Linked DNA regions of Homo sapiens: region 1 is linked to region 2. Evidence: fine-mapped expression QTL. Tissue or cell type: monocytes after LPS. Region 2 holds a variant in brackets; the other region holds the start of a gene. All regions are shown on one strand. Distances are between the middles of the regions.

The links. PIP is the estimated chance that this variant, and not a neighbour inherited with it, causes the effect.
Region 1: it holds the start of TNPO1, and the variant in region 2 is fine-mapped to the expression of TNPO1 in monocytes after LPS (Fairfax 2014, PIP 0.90).

The regions. Positions count from the first base shown.
Region 1 is chr5:72,813,280-72,821,666 of GRCh38, reverse strand. TNPO1 (transportin 1) reads right to left here and starts at 5,006. Exons shown (of 25, transcript NM_002270.4): 1 at 4,915-5,006. The coding sequence starts at 4,929. It overlaps TNPO1-DT (TNPO1 divergent transcript), which reads left to right and starts at 5,119. Exons shown (of 9, transcript NR_186518.1): 1 at 5,119-5,514. RefSeq lists enhancers at 4,230-4,279, 5,360-5,439 and silencers at 4,740-4,959, 5,000-5,099.
Region 2 is chr5:72,383,054-72,391,440 of GRCh38, reverse strand. No RefSeq gene overlaps it. Among named protein-coding and RNA genes, the nearest start is that of PTCD2, 67 kb to the right of the region's middle. The variant G/A (reference allele first, on the strand shown) is at 4,257.

The DNA.
Region 1 (8,387 bases), 430 kb before region 2:
TTTCTCCACTAGTATGTAAATCTCTCGACAAGAGATAATCCCAGCACTAATAAATGGCACAAAAGTCCTTCATGGTTTGCTAGCTCTCTCATCATTTCCTAGTTCTGCTATGCTCCAGTCAAAATATATATTTAATTTCATTAAATATTTTTCAAAAACACAATTTCAAATGGTAGCATAATAATCAATAGTTCTGTACTTTTATATTCTTATCTTTAAAATCTTGTTGGATACCACCTATTCCTAATAATTTATTTGCATTTATTTAGTATATTCATGATTTGCTGAAATACTTCTCTTCCTTAATTCCTTTCTTAGTAAAAACAAAAGTGGTGGAATCTTATCCTTCCTAGCATTAACTTTTTCATTTGTGGTAGAAACATATGCATCTAGGATAAAGGGGCTCCACTAATAAATTATTTTACTAATGGCTTCGGAGTCATCTATAAAATGCAACTCAAATATGAATTTTTCTCTAATTTTCAGTATAAATTTAACTTCCTACACCTTGTAGGCAGTTCTATTCTCCTTATGTGAAACACATATTTTTTTGCTTGTTTCCCCAGTAAAACCTTCATTTACTTTACCAGGAGTTTTACTAAACGTATATTTCAATTTTAGCACTTACGGGCCTTTTCATTTCTCTTATTCCCCAAATTTAATCAAATTTGAGATTTCTTTGGTTTTCTCTCACCTATTTGTGTTAAGATCATTAAGAATTGCACCCACAGATATTTGGTGCATTCACTTTAGAACCCGGTTTTATATAGTTGTTACCAATTATATCTCATCCAGGTAAAGATTTTCTTTTTCTAAAATGTGGAAAGTTAAGCCCTGTCTTGTTTAACTTTGCAACTTACCCATTCATTATTCCCAGCTCAGTTTAGCTATCTTAAAAATGTGGTCTGTGATCTATAGTTAGTTATAGTATAAAATTCTGAATATGTATATGATATAAAAGTATACAAATAAAACAGCATGATGAGCTTTGCAGTCAAGCAGATCTAGATTCAGATTCAGGCTCGAACGCTCTGAGCCCTTGGACAAAGTACTTACCTATTTACACTTTGTTTTCTCATCAGTAAAATAGAAGTAACTTCCATGTATAACACAGAGCCAACATAATAAATGAGAAAAATGTACATGAAAGTGACAATGTATGTTAAATGCCTACAAATGATGTCTAGTACATTACAAGGAAAACGTTAATCCACTCTCTATTCCTCCAATCCCAAAGCAACAGGAACAATACTGTGTAGTCTCAATTTATTATATTAATAAGTTCATTATTAAATTCCCTTAAGTAAAAGCAATTTGCAGTATGGACCATGAGCTTTGGATGTTTACTTTGACTCAGTATTTTTGCTTTGGGGACTCTAAATAATCCAGAATGCAGAAATTGATTTTTGTATGAGGATGTTCATTGCAGTGTTTCTTATAACTGCAAAAAAATTAGAAACTGTTTAATAATGAGAAATCCACACAAACATGCAAACATTAAATATGGTGACAAAATAATTAAGTAGCATAAGAAAATGCTTATGGTGAGAATACAAAATTACTCACATAGTAAAGTCTCAACTGTGAAAAAAATCCAATAAACTCAGAAAAAAACATTGGAAGGAAATGCGCAAAAGGGCTTACAGTAGTTACTACGTAGTACTGATATTTGTAATTTTTATTTTATGGTTTTCTATAGTTTTCTGAAATAATTAACAGTGATAATGACATTGATGATAACAGCAGTTATTATTTATAGAAAAGTTAATACATGTCAGGCCCAGTTTTAAGAGCTTAGTGTATTAACTCATTTAATCCTCATAACATAAGATGAAAAAGTGAGATTAAATAACTTGCCCAAGGTCACACAGATAATTACAGAAGGTGCCAAAATCTGAATCCAAATAGTGTGGCTCCAAAGCGCCTGTTCTCTACACTACATTGAAAAGTTTTGCTTTGTTTTAAAAATTTAACCATTAAAAAGGCATATATCAATCCCAACTTTATGGTCTCACGGTTATCAGCTTTTTTTCAGTACTGAGTTGTAATATTCGCTCTGGCATGGAGTGTCTTTTTGGATTAAGATGTAGCCACTATTCCTATATGTATTCTATCTACTCCAGAAAATTCCAGGACAAATCCACCTCCCTATTTCCCATTTCAATATCTCATTTGACCATTCAGACTCTAGAACTCTAATATTCCTACTTACTACAGCAACTTACAGTACTTCAAAGGACCCTTCAAAGCAACCCAATCAAACTTGCTTTTGAAAACCTCTCCTAACTAACATCCACGCATACAACTACAAATCAGTTACCACTTGCTGTGGTTTGAATATGGTGTGTCTGTCTCCATCAAAATTCATGTTGAAATCTGATCATGATCTGGTGGACATGATTTAGTTCCCTGAGGGTGAGTTGTTAGAAAGCCAGGCCCTTCCCTCAGATTTCCCCCTCTTTGCCTGGGGTGGCTTCCCCTTTGACCTTCTCTAGCAGGTTATGATGCAGCACAACAAGCTGACCAGATGGCGGCGCCTTGCTTCTTATACTTCCCAGCCTGCAGAACCGTGAGCTAAATAATAAACCTCTTCTCTTTATAAATGACCCAGTCTCAGGTATTCTTTTACAGCAACACAATACGGATTAAGGCACCACTCTTGCAAACATCTGTCTTCCATTGTGAAGCTCATCCCTTGTACAACCCAGAAGACTCCTTCACCTGCCAACACTCAACAGATTTACCATGGCAATGGCTGAATAGGGTCAACTAAGAAAAATCCTCAACCTCCAGGGGAATTTCACTGTTTCTGATCCTTCCTCTTTGAGGATGGCATTGTTCGCCATTGTTTTTGAAAACCTCATCAGTTTCTTTGATTCTCTCAGCTTTCTCATCCTTTTGCTGGTAAACCAAACTGTTTTGAGGGGGGAAGATATCTTTTTAGCACCAATATGTATTCAAATATCAATCTCAGGAAAAAATATCACAATTTATACCCTGGCCAATAAAAAGAACTCCCCCACTTACTGCTGTGCTCCTCTCTGCAGTTTATATTTGATAAATTCATTTATTTCATTACCTATGTCACTTGGTTTGACGTCACTTTATAACCAGGTTTCTTTTCTTAAAAAAACATTTGCAGAATCCAACATGGTTAAAATTCAAGAAATTCTTCTAAATACAGATGTTTACATTTCAATGTAGTAGCTCATTTACAACATTTAGAAAAACTGAGTTCATGGAATGGCTTTAAAATTATAAATAAGCAAAACTACAGTCATAAAAACAATGAATACAATAAGAAATGTTGATATTGGAAAAGCTTACAACTAGAATCATGTATTTTTACAAAAATCTTATTCTGCTCACATTATATAATGGTAATAAAGCCACTGAGAGTTGAGGTAGAAGTGCAAACAAGATTTTTATAGATATTTCAGTGGGAGGAATTTAATAATTCCTGACTAGGAGAAAGATGCAGCCACATCAAGGGTGGCGGCCCCTTTTAGGAAAAAGAAAACAGAACACTAGTACTTCATTAGGCTCACGTTAAATTGCATGAAGTAAAAATCGTACTGCCAAGCTAGTATAAATTTATGCACTGCATAGCTAGAGACTAAAAAAGATATCTGCACCTACAAACTATTGTTTCCCTTTTGTGGTTGCTAATTTTCATCCTGGCACAGCCTTCTCTAGGAACAACTACGGTGCCAGGTAAGGTGAAAGTGGAAAACAGATCCTTTCCCAAAAAACGGAACTTTCCCCTTTTCCACTAAACATAGCTTCTTCACCACTCTAACATGAAAGCTTTGATATAACAGGGAAACTTAAAAAGCTGCAGGAACTTTTGTTATTCTAAAAGTGAGTAGTACGTCAGGACAGCCATTTTACAACCTTCATTTCCAAACACCTATTACACCATACATCTTGCAATTTTAAAAGTATCTTTTCTTTAGGGTAAAAAAAGTACCACTTACACATTCATCATTTAAGTCATTACTGTTTCAAAGGACAGTTATTAAGCTTCTTAATACAGCTGTCAAAATCAATTTGTAGATAGCCTCCAATTTCAAATTTCTACATTTACATCTACTGATAGACCATCCTGATTAGCGATTAAGATAACAGACTTAAACTCTAAGCAATCCTTGCAAAATCCAGTTGATTTTTAAAATCAGTAAGCAACACGCGATCATTTTTAAAGAAAGTCATTCCGAAAATAGCTTGATTGTGGTGGCCAATCTGCTCCTCAGCAGCTGTTCCCTGTTGCTTGTACGCATGGGAGTGGAGGTAGAAGGGCAAAACCCACAAGCCCACGCAAAACTCGTACAGTCACAAACATTATGTAAACATGTCGTGAGGCCAAGAGGCCCCAAGGAGAAAGAACCGCCGGGAGGAAGAGAACGGCAAGCTGCATGTAAGGACGATGGGCGCTGTGTGCGGACGCAGGAGACCCGGGCAGAGGGGCCCAGGGCGGGACAAAGACTGGCCCATCTCGGGCAGCGCCGGCCAGCGCCCAGAACCAGTGAAAGGCAGCCGTCCCGGGGCAGCCGACTGCAGCACTCAAGGGCCCTCAAACGCCACAGCTTAACAGGCGAGGCAAACGCTCCCCTGAATGTAAGACCCTTCCCTTCCCGCCCCTTGTAACGGGCTCCTGCCGCCCCTAACGGGATCCTCGGACGCTTGAGGAGCCGCCGTCGCCTGCTCCCTACCCGGGTCCCGCAGGGCGCCTGGGCGGGCAGCTGTTGGGGTTAGAACCGCGCCGCCGCTGCCTCTCGGCTTCAAACGGCCGGGCAGGCGCCGAGAGAGCGGGCGAGCCCGGCGTCTCTCCCGTAGGCGCGTCAGGCAGCTCGGCGCTCCCAGCCTCCGTTCCCGCCCCTGCAGTTCGGGGCCGCGCACCCTCACGCCACCTACCCGGTCCCACACCATCCCAGACGCCTCGGGCGCTCGGGCCTTCGGCCGAAGCGGCACTGCCTCCTGTCCGGGGCCTGAAATGGCTGCGGAACAAAGAGAATCTGGGCTTCACCGAGCGCCGGTCCGATTGGCCGGGGGGCGGAGCCCGCGGCGGGAACATTCGGCGGCGGTCGCCTTGGCAACGGCGGCGGGGCTAGGAAAATTGCTGCCTGGGTCGGCTGGGCCTGTGGGCCTGCGTCCGACAGCGCGCGGCCGTGCTTTCTAAGCGGGCTCGGCAGCACCAGACTTCACCGGCCCGGCGCGGGGCTCACAAGTGCTCGCACTCCCTGCGGCCGGCGCGCTGACCGGAGCCTCTGGGTCTCGCACGCAGCAGCTGCAGACGCTGCCCGGCGCGGTGGGGCTGTGAGCAAAACGGCCCGCCGGTGTGGTTGCCCAGACTGTGCTGGGCCCTCCTAGGTGGATGGCCCTGCCCCAGCCTAACTTCTGTACCCCAGCATAACCTCCAAAGTAACAGCCGTGCCCTGGGAGCCTGTTCAACACTGAACATATCCCACAATAACACTGTTCCAGCGTCGCTGGTAAAAAGCAGAAATGGCTTCGGTAGGTAGACGCCGGTGGATGGCTGCCCGCTTAGAACAAGATAGGCTTTTGACGTATGTTGTATCTGGCGTATAAACTACTATGTAATTAGAATTCAGTGATTTATAAAATGTTTACGCCTCCAGGTGTTCAATCCTATAAAACTGTAGTTTCTTGCTCTTAGAAATAACAAGCCTTTCTCTCCCTAACCTGCCATCATGAGAAATTAAAATGTCCTGTATTTTCTGTACGGCAAATGATTCAAAATGGGAGTGGTGGACGTTTTTATACCCAACTGCAACAAGGGTAATGAGATAAATATCAGTTTCCTTCCCTCAGATTATTCTTATATGTAAAATTTACTGTATAAAAATACTTAAAATTTGCATAGCTAGCTGATTTTTATTTTCTAAGGTGATGATGCCCGTGATAATATTCCTCACATGATCAGTGTGAGTAGAAATACCAGCAGTTCCGACTATCTTACTGGAAGTGCTGTATATATTTTGAAAATGTGTGACAGTTGTTGCCTTCCTGTCATAGTTTAGGTAAAATTACAGTACATAATACTAGAAAATGTCTAAATTTTTACTAAGGTAATTTATTTGTTCTTCTAAACGTGTTAACAATTTTCATTTGAATTACAGTCATTTTGCAGGAACAACTAGTTTATTTAACTTAAAATTTGAGACTAAAAGTACCATTTTTTAATCATTGGGAAATTGAACTTAGCAAGGGAAAATATAGATAACTAAAATATTCATGATTTCAACATGTTATAATATTAATTTGATAGTAATTGGATACAGTAGTGTATATCAAAAAGAGCCCCCCCCCCCAAATAGGAGTAGATTACCAAGAAAAAAATGTAATATAAACTTTTCTGAATGGTAGTTTATCTGCAGGAAAATATACCCAGAAAAAGTATATTTATCCAAATAACAAATGGCTTATTTCTGCATTTGAAAAGTTACATCGTGGACTAGGATCTATACAAATCAGAAGATGTGTAGTATTTGCATTCTACTTTGCTAAAGGAAAAAACACAAATATTTCTAAAATCCAAAAGATTAGCAAATAATGACAGATGTAAATACTACTGACTAAGCAATTAGTAGGAGTTCACTTGATTAATAGTTTGGAAATAGCTGAAATGAATTGAAGAAAAAGTAACATATTATTTAGCATAAGAGGATTTATTGGCCAAAACATTTTGAAAGAAAAAAATGTTGATTATCAGATGTTGTAAAATTGAGATTAAGCAAATTAAATATGTATTCTTTTGTAAAAATTAAAGTGAATGAAAATACTAATATAAAATAGTTCTGTTGAATAGAGATTCTTACACATGTAGCCTTTTTGTCTCTTCTAGGTCAAATTAAAAAAACATGTTTTAAACAGTAAATCTTATTAACAAGGATTTATTAACATGGCTTATTTTATTTTTCTTTGACAGTTTGCACATATAATAGCAGCTATCCAGTAGTATTTTCTCTTTATACCTAAATATGCTCATGTGGTAAAACTTTGAAGAATTATTAATAATTTTTAAATGACAAAAATGAAGTTAAAATTTATAAACTTTGTTTTTACCTTTAAAACATAGATATATTTAAAATTTCTGTATTAATTTTATTTTCTTAGGTGAAAAATTTACCAAGATAAAAATAAAAACATGTTAGAAGTTACAAAATAGCATCTGAGGGAGAAAACATACCTATAAGCTTTCACCTAGGAATGACAAGATGCTTATTTTGTCAGGTGTAGCATTGTTAAAACAAGTGTGGAGCTTGCAGGCAGAGGACCTATATGCAGATGCTGGCTTTACCATTTATGAATGCTTTTGGCTCAGTCTTTCTGAGCTTCACTTTCTTTTGTCTGAAACAAGATTAAGTAAGATAAGTTACATAAAGAACTCATTAGCAGAGTGCAGGGCAGGTTGTTAGAGGGCAATGAATGAAAGTATTACTAGACATTAATATAAATCAAAGATGTTTGAGAAGGAGGAATATTATTGAAAAAGTAAGTCTGGAAATTCAAAAATTGTTAAATAAATGTCTTTAATAGGCAATTGTTGGTGAGTATATGGAAACCTAGTAAGATAAGTAATTTTTTATATACAGGCAAGCTTCTAAAATAGAATAAGCCTGGGCGCAGTGGCTCACGCCTGTAATCCCAGCACTTTGGGAGGCCGAGATGGGCGGATTACCTGAGGTCAGGAGTTTGAGGCCAGCCTGGCCAACATGGTGAAACCTCGTCTCTACTAAAAATACAAAAATTAGCTGGGCATGGTGGCGGGCACCTGTAATTCTAGCTACTCAGCAGGCTGAGGCAGGAGAATTGCTTGAACCTGGGAGGCAGAGGTTGCGGTGAGCCAAGATCAGGCCATTCATTTGCACTCCAGCCTGGGTGACAGAGGAAGACTTCGTCTCAAAAATAAATGAAAAAATAAAAATAAACAAATAAAATAGAATAGGATCTTCTAAAATATTGTCACCATTTATACTTCTGGAAGACAATTATTTCACATTAGGTAGTTTAAAGAATTGCCTTACACTGAAACATCTTCAGGTTGACATTATGAAAAAAAGTTTCAGTAATTATTTGGAAGAATTTAATTAAAATATTGAAGAGGACAATTGTAGTCAATATTCAGAAATGTGTAAATAATCTACAGGCATTTCTCATTTAAAGTAAACCCAATATATAAAGTTTGAATTCTTAAAAATATAAATTAGGGAGTTATTAACTGGGAAAAATTAACTTCAAATCTCCTTTAAGTATTAATATGTCCTAGTGATTATAATATGATTCTGCTTATAAAAAGGTCTACTTAGATTTCCACTTTTGGGAAGTTGGAATAGATATGCTTGTCCCTATTCCTCCCACTAAGT
Region 2 (8,387 bases):
ACCTTAATTATTTCCATAAAAGCCTTACCTTTTAGAGATAACTCATTAGGAGTTGAGGCTTCAACATATAAATTCGGGGGGACACAATTAAGTGCATAACACTCATTTCCCTCACCTTTCATCTCCTCCTTCATTCTCTCTTGCACCCATAGTATCTGACCTTTGAAGTATGGGGAAAGAGGAGATTAAAGAAGGCAGGACCATTGATACTGTCTGGAGCTGGTGTGAGCCTTCAGCATCCTCCCCAGGCCTGGCAGGCAATAAACCCAATTCCTTTTCTTAGGGGAAATGTTTGGAAATGCTGTACTCTCTTCCTGTTCCATGCCACACCTCTTTCCTCACTCCTAAGAATTTCATGGCTGACCTCCAGCCTCTTCCTGGTGAAGCCCCTTCTCCTCTTCAGACAACCCACATGGACAGACATGAATCAACTCCACATCAGCTCTCTTTGGAATGTGGGCCATCAAGTACATCAGAAACCTTCATGCTTCCTTTTACTTTCTTCCTCTTGAATCTGAAGCTCTAGAAGAACAGGCCAATCATGATGCAGTGCCAAATTGCTTTGCTCCTGTAGTCAGAGTGTCTCTCATTTTCACACTCCCCAGGCAGGAGTCAGAATACATCCCACCCTAATGCCCAAACTGCAGAGGACACACTTCTAGCTTTCTGAGTAGTGTCCCTGAAGCTCTTCTTTTTTGACCTGAGGGAAGGAGAGACTCATTCCACTAAAATCATCCCCCCAGTTCTCTCTTCTGTAACAGATGTGACGAATTGGTCCTCAGCACCAATTCCAACCTATTTTCTTGGGTGCTTTCCTTCATTGCAAAATTGAAAACAATTATTTTCAGATTATTTTGAATTTAGGATTCTAAATGCAAATAACGTTCTGCCAATTGAAGGTACTTGAGGCCAGGCATGGTGGCTCATGCCTGTAATCCCAGCACTTTGGGAGGCCGAGCGGGTGCATCACCTGAGGTCAGGAGTTCAAGATCAGCCTGGCCAACATGATGAAACTTCGTTCCTACTAAAAATACAAAAAATTAGCCGGACGTGGTGGCGGGCGCCTATAAGCCTAGCTACTCGGTAGGCTGAGGCAGGAGAATTGCTTGAACCCGGGAGGCAGAGGTTGCAGTGAGCCAGGATAGAACCACTGCACTCCAGCTTGGGCAACAAGAGTGAAACTCTGTCTCGAGGAAAAAAAAAAAAAAAAGGGTACTTGAACAAGATTTGAAAGGCAGACAGGGTTGGAGTTGGGGAAGTGGGTGGTCTTCCCACTGCATGCAACCCAGGGGAGAAGAGAGTATTTTTCCGCATCTATGATCCAGGGTCCAGCTTTTGTTCTACCTTCAAGTAGCAGCCCCGCTTCCTTTTAACTTCTCCCCACCTCAAACATCTCAGTCACCTAAACAAAATGGATTTCCACTCCCAAATCCTAGTAAGCCACAGATTTCAGGACCTTGAGAGAAAAAATACAGTTAAATGGAAGTCTTGAGTTTTCTTTTCCTTTACTGTGTTCAAACCAAATTACGCCATTTTGTATAATTATTTCATTACCTAGAGAACAGGCCCAAATTATGCCTCACAGACTATAGGTTTTGTAGACTGATTTTACCAAGTTATTTATTTCAAATCTGTTATAGTTGCTGCCAAGGAATTTTGATGTCATACGAAGTATACTGTGGAGAGGTTTTATACTTATGTCAATAAGTGAAGCCATTTCTCTGACGCTTTTTATTAATGGAGTTTCTATGAACTTGTTCCGTTTATAGCTGGCTATGGTGATGCATAAGCTATTAAAGCAGCAAGTCACACTAGCACGCTCACACACACACACGCACACACATCATCTTCATTCACTACATCCTCCCAAGGTAACCTGGGAGGGTTACCTATATCTTCCCAATATACCTTTAATAATACACACCTCCCACACAGACCCAATACTCCAGCCAATTTTAAGACAGTTGTACATAGACAGACCTGTTGCCCACATGGCAGCCTCTGCCAATCACGAAGAACAGGAGTTTGCTTGGCAGGAGAATCAGTCACCATCTCCGAGTTCCTATGCTTATGGCTGGTATGAGTGTTCTCTTCTGCTCAGATGTGAGGATTCAATGAAAAGTGCCTGTCAAATCTATGCATTTATGTGGAAATGAGACATTGTTCTGTAATGTCAGTGTGTGTTTTGAGGACGACATTGCCTGTAAGACACTCAATTCTCATTATTTTAAGAAAGCAGTGATCTAACTAGGAGATATTTTTATGTATGCATCTTTAGATTTACACCACCTTTCTTCCTGAGGCCCACGACCACCAGCCTTATAGAAGCCACCGTCATCTCTCACTGGACTACCGCTTTGTTTCCTAACTGGTCTTCCTGCTTCCATGTGAACCCCATTACAATGTTCTCCACATCAAATATTGAACAGTCACTTAAAAATGCAAATCAGTTCCAGTCCCGACCTGGTTTATGAACCCCTCAGTGGCTTTCCACTGCACTTTAAATAAAATAGAACTTGGCGCTGGGTGTTGTCCTCCCTGTACCCCAGCCAGCCCGGCTGAGCCACGCTTCTGAGACTGCGCCAAGTTCATCCTACGCAGCCTCTGCCTTGCTCTCCTCTGCCTGAGGCATCGCCTCTCCAGGTCCTCCCTAAACTGACTCCTTCTCTTTCTTCAATTCAGTCTCCTCAGCGGGGCCTCCCCTGACCAACTACCAAAGCTAACTTCTCCTTATTCTCCTTACAGCTTCCTATTCACTTTTCTTTTAACACATATTATCTATCTATAATTATGTGTTTATTGTCTACCTCCCCTACTTGACTGAAAATTACATATGGGTGTGGACCATTGCCACTTGTATCCCAAACACCTTGTTCAAGCATCCACTGATACCCCGAGAGGTCTGGGAGCCCAGGTTCCCAACTCCTACCATACCATCGGTGTGTTATCACCTGCAAAATTTTCTTTAACATTCTTGTTAACATCATCAACATAATTTTACTGAACAATTTGCCAATACCCTAAAATTTGTTAACTTTTCCAATAAAAATCTAATAAGAAAAGCTTTTAAGTCAGCAACAAGGAAGCCAGGATGTAGAAAACAGCCAGCTTTGACAGAAGAGTGTGGCTTAGGTGAGCATTTCATCAGTTTGAAGGTGCTATAGCCGATTTTTGTGGTAAGCTGAAGATCAGAGTGCAGTTCCACAGGACAGGATGCAAAAGCATGACTCTGCTGTCTCAACTCAGATGTTTTTACAATGACCTCATCATTTTATTTGAAACAATGAGAATTCCAGGATCATTGGAACATCCGTACTCAAAAATCATAAAGAAAATATGTTAACCTTTTCTTCAACTCTTCATGTCAATGTCTCCTTCCATTCGTATACATAACCAGTATGATTTATTGTAACACATAAATAAACTATTAAAATAACCAGTTTAAATTTTCTTAGTTTTTAACAATAAAATTATTTATACATTAGTGAAGATTTAGTCAAAGTCACAGCTAAAAATTATTGTGATTTTATGGAGACATATTTGAAATATAGAAAATTAGACATGAAGCTATTAAAAGACATATTTTACAATGGCTACATAGTTACACAGCTTTGGGGGAAAAACCAGATATGTTTATCACCAATAAAAAAAACAGAAGGCTAATTAAGACAAGAGCCTATTGTGAATCTCATTTAACTAATCAATTGAATTGACACGTTTATTGAGCTTCTACTATGACCTTAGGAAGTGTAAGACATGGTTCCAGCTCACAAGAAGCTTAAGTTCAGGGGGGAAAAGGGAGCACAGCGGCTATTATATTGTACATTTATTACATTAGTAAGTGTCTTCTTACATTTATGAGGTGCTTACCAGTTCCAAGTTCTCTGCTAAGACTTTTTGCATGCACTATTTCATTTTATTCTCACAACAGCATCATGGACTTTAACTACATAGCAATTTAACTTTTAAGACAACTAAGGCTCAGAGCAATTCATTGGCTGTCTACTGACATACAGCTAGTGAGTGGCTGAGTTAGAATTCCACCCAGATCTGCCTGATTCAAAGGTTCAGAGCTCTTTCTACCATCAAAAATGTGCTGTGGTGAGGCTTTCCCCAGGTAGGAATGCAAAAATAAGACCAGATAATAAAATGAAAATGTGAACTTCATGAGGGCTAGACCATGTTCATTTTGTTTCTCATTTTATTTCCCAAACCCAGGACAGTACCTGCACTGATTAGTATTTTTTGAATGAATG[G/A]CATCTGACAATTAAGCTTTGAAAGCAACAGATTTTAACTCAGAGCAGAGAGGCACTGAGGGGAGCTGAAAAAGACAACTCCCAGTTATATAAAATCTGGGAGAGCTGACTGAACATATTGTCATATTAGAATAAAGATTTAAAGCAGTCTTCAGAGAGGCTGGTTAGCCTTGAAAACATAGAAAAGGAGAGTGAAACTATAGAGGTGAAAGCTGATCTTTTTACATCCAGTTTATTTTTCCCAAATTTACCAAGGAGAGAAGCTACTGCGTCTTCCTGGGGGCTGAAAGAGAAGAATTGAGTGAAAGGGGAAGAGGAAGAAAGGCCAGGCCATTATAGCAACTGATCTTCACCCACAAAGAGGGAAGCAGCAGGCAGGAAAGAAGCACCCCCATGTAAACTAGGCAATAAAGCCCCATGAGTGTGACAGGACTATCTGAGAGTTGGGACACCCAGGAGATCAACCAAGGAGAACTCAAGGCAATGGGTTGGAATGTTATAGGACTTTAGTTGGAGAGATGCATGAACAGAATAGCACAGACTAGAACATAGAAAAATGAAACCGTGTGTGTGTGTGTGTGTGTGTGTGTGAGAGAGAGAGAGAGAGAGAGAGACAGGGAGAGACACAGAGAGAGAGAGAGAGATCTGTTAGGGTGACCTAAGCATTGACACTGTGGAGCCAATTTCCCTTGGTTTGTACTTCTAATAAATTGTCTCACCCTACCCCCACCACTGCCCACCCCCTCACCAGTAATTGTATATTTTTCATCATACATGAAAAGAATCAGCATTCTGGTTTGTATATATCAGTCTCTGTGGCCTTGGTTAACATACATAATCCCCAAGCAGAGAGACCCTTCATCTGTATATAGGACAAATAAAGTCCTATGTCTGGATGGCTGACACAATACCTTGAACCCTTGTGAATTCCTACAGGATAAATGCCACTTGGAATGGCCTCCTGACAGCCAACCAGTGCTCTCCTGTGCTACAGTATACCCCCCTGTACTACAGTGGGGCCAATGTTTCCTTCTGAACTGACATTATCAAAGAGTACATAACCGCAAGAAAATACATTTCAGTCCTAAGAAGAGATCATCAACTGCACAAATACAACACAGAGGTTATGGTACAGTGTATGATGGGGAGTGGGGAGGGAGGAAAGAGAGGAGAAGAACTGATATGCATTCGATTTCTAGCTTGTTTTTAAGAAGTCTTACATACTTACCTTACACAGACAATAACCAGAGAACTAGAGGCTTGGTAAGCGTAAGTCAATTGACCAGAAGTCACTCAACTAGTAACTCTCAGGGATTTCAAACCCAACTAGTAACTCTCAGAGATTTTTAAACTCTCAGGTATCCAAATGCAGGCCTGTCTAGTTCAAGGGTAATAATAACAACGAGTACATAATTAGTATAAAAATAAATGGAAAAGACCCTTGTAGTAAGACTTATAAATTAGAATGCACAGTTACCTAAGAGACACTGCTCTCTCTCTAGTTCTTTTTAAAATATTCAATAGAAGACCAGGTGCAGTGGCTCACACCTGTAATCCCAGCACTTTGGGAGGCCGAGGCAGGTGGATCATCTGAGGTCAGGAGTTCAAAACCAAACTGACCAACATGGTGAAACCCGGTCTCTACTAAAAATACAAAAATTAGCCAGGCAAGGTGGCACGCGCCTGTAATCCCAGCTCCTTGGGAGGCTGAGGTAAGAGAATCACTTGAACCTGGGAGACGGAAGTTGCAGTGAGCCAAGATTGCGCCACTGCACTCCAGTCTGGGCCACAGAGTGAGACTCCATCTCAAAAAAATAAATAAATAAAAAATAGAAGAATACTCAATAGAAGTATGCTGTTTGGACTTCATTTTTGTGAAGGCAAAGAAAAATAAGTGAAACGAGAAACTATATAAAAACAAACTGTGGCATCTAATTCCTCCCCCTGCCCCTGTTCCATCCACGGAGTGTGTTTGCGCAACCGGTATATAGAAATGTTCGGAGAAGTGATGGAAACTTTATAGTAATTTATATGAATTGGTTTTTCACTTGTGGATTTTATAAGCAGATTAAATTCCACATTCAAATCGCTGCACTGCAACTTATTAAATATTCACTTTTCAAAATAAGTTGATGCATTATTTACAGCAGAGCAGATTCAATATTTAAATTGTTTTCTCAAAGAGTTCCTGACTAGAGCATGTAACCAGCACCTTCCTCCCGGACCAGGCGATGAGATGAAATGAGTCTTATTTGGTGCAAATCCTAAGAACAAAGGCCTAACCTGAACTGGAAAGCCAGCTTTGGTTAATGCCAAATTCCAGGCTGCATCCACTTCTGGACCTCTGACTTGCCTTCTTCTTGGCCTCACACAGCATCTTGTCCCTCATCAGCGTTTCTCTCACTAAAGGCATCTGGCTTCTTGGGGTGGAATCATCTGGGATGAGTTTTCAAAATGCATTGGCATTGAAAACAATGGTTTTTAAACCTCAGGGTTGAGAATCACTGCTCTAACCAAGGTAGTGCCTAGTAAGAAAGCCTTCTTAAGCCTTATCCTAGACTCAGAGTTCAGACTTTGTCTTGTGAGCTCTGGGAGACACCAAAAGGGTTAAAGCAGAGAAAGGACATGTTCACATTTTGCACTTTAAGAGTAGTGTAGCTGCAATGTGGAGAATAGAACACTCGGGAAAAGGAGACCAGGTGAGGCAGTGGTCTAGGCGAGAGAGGACGTGGACCCAAGGTAGAGCAGTGGCCATGGAAGGATTTGAGAGGCACTTAGGAAAGATAATCGATGGAGCCCAGAGCCTCATTGCATGGAGGGTGGGGAGGTCAGCAGGTGACAGAGAGGAAGAAAATAAAGAAGAACTTGCTGTGTTTAGGGTGGAATGTGCTAACATGAACGCTACTTGTTATTGCGAGACTCAGATTATAACCTCAATATTCTGATACCTAAGGTTTTACAAATATACTCTGTTTTCCTAAAATCAATTAAGTGGTTGAGTTTTGATTTATTTTATAGTTAACAAAAGGACATTCTTTGAAGTTCTTTTTGGTATGGGGTGCTAAATAATATAGAGTAAATTAAAACAATGTATCTAGGATCCTAGTAAAGTTATTTCTCTTTAGCTTCTCTGAGAAGCTGGGCAATGAACCAAAGCCTGGGCTTTCATTCCGTAGCACTGAAAATACTCAAGTCTCCTAACCTCAAATTTGGAAGTAAGCTCTGTCTTTTTAAATCACTGGCAAGTCACCTCCTCCTTTTCCTCTCTATCTCACTCCCTCTATCCTAGATTTTTCAGGCTTTATTTGGAGATTGTGAGTCCACAGATGGGTGCTGTCTAACTGGAACTGGAGAAATTTACAGACGACAGAATGTAGCAATAGTTGTAGGACAAGAGGCAAAAATCTGATCTTCTGATCTCTTTATTTTTCAGTTGTTGTCTGTATAGTTGCAGTGTTCTTTTTTCCTAATCATAAAATAATTACAATGTATTATTATTAGGAATTCAAACAATTCAGGAAAGTATGATACAGAAAGTGAAAATACCCTGACACCTCAACCTCAGGAACATCCATGTTAACAGTTTGGTGTATACCCTTCCAGATTCCTGCAGTAACATAGGATTAAGGTGAGGAATTAGGCAGGCACCGAGCAGGAGGTCAGGGCTCCAGGCAGATGGAGAGCACGTGTTCTTAAGAGAATGCATGACACATCAGGGAAGCTGGAGGTTCCCTATGGCGCTGGTATCCGAAGTGTGAGGTGGGCGTGGCGAGATGCAAGGAATGGAGGTTGGCAAGGACCCTTTAGAATGTGTGTGCACACGTGTACACCTTTTAAGAATATCAGATCATACTATGCATTGTCTTCTAAAACTTGTTTTTCTACATGGAAATCTTCCCACATCAGTGCATTTAGGTATAATTCACCCTTTAAAAAAGGGATATATAGTACTCTATTATTTGGATGGACAAAGTTTTTTTAACTAACCCACTACCAATGTGAGTAACTTCTAGTTTTTGCTATTAAGAGCAAATCAACATTATTAAGTAAATGCCCACAGAAGAATATCTCAAGGCTGAACTTCCAGGATTGATATTGCTAGGTCAATGGCTATGCCTATTTAAAATTTTA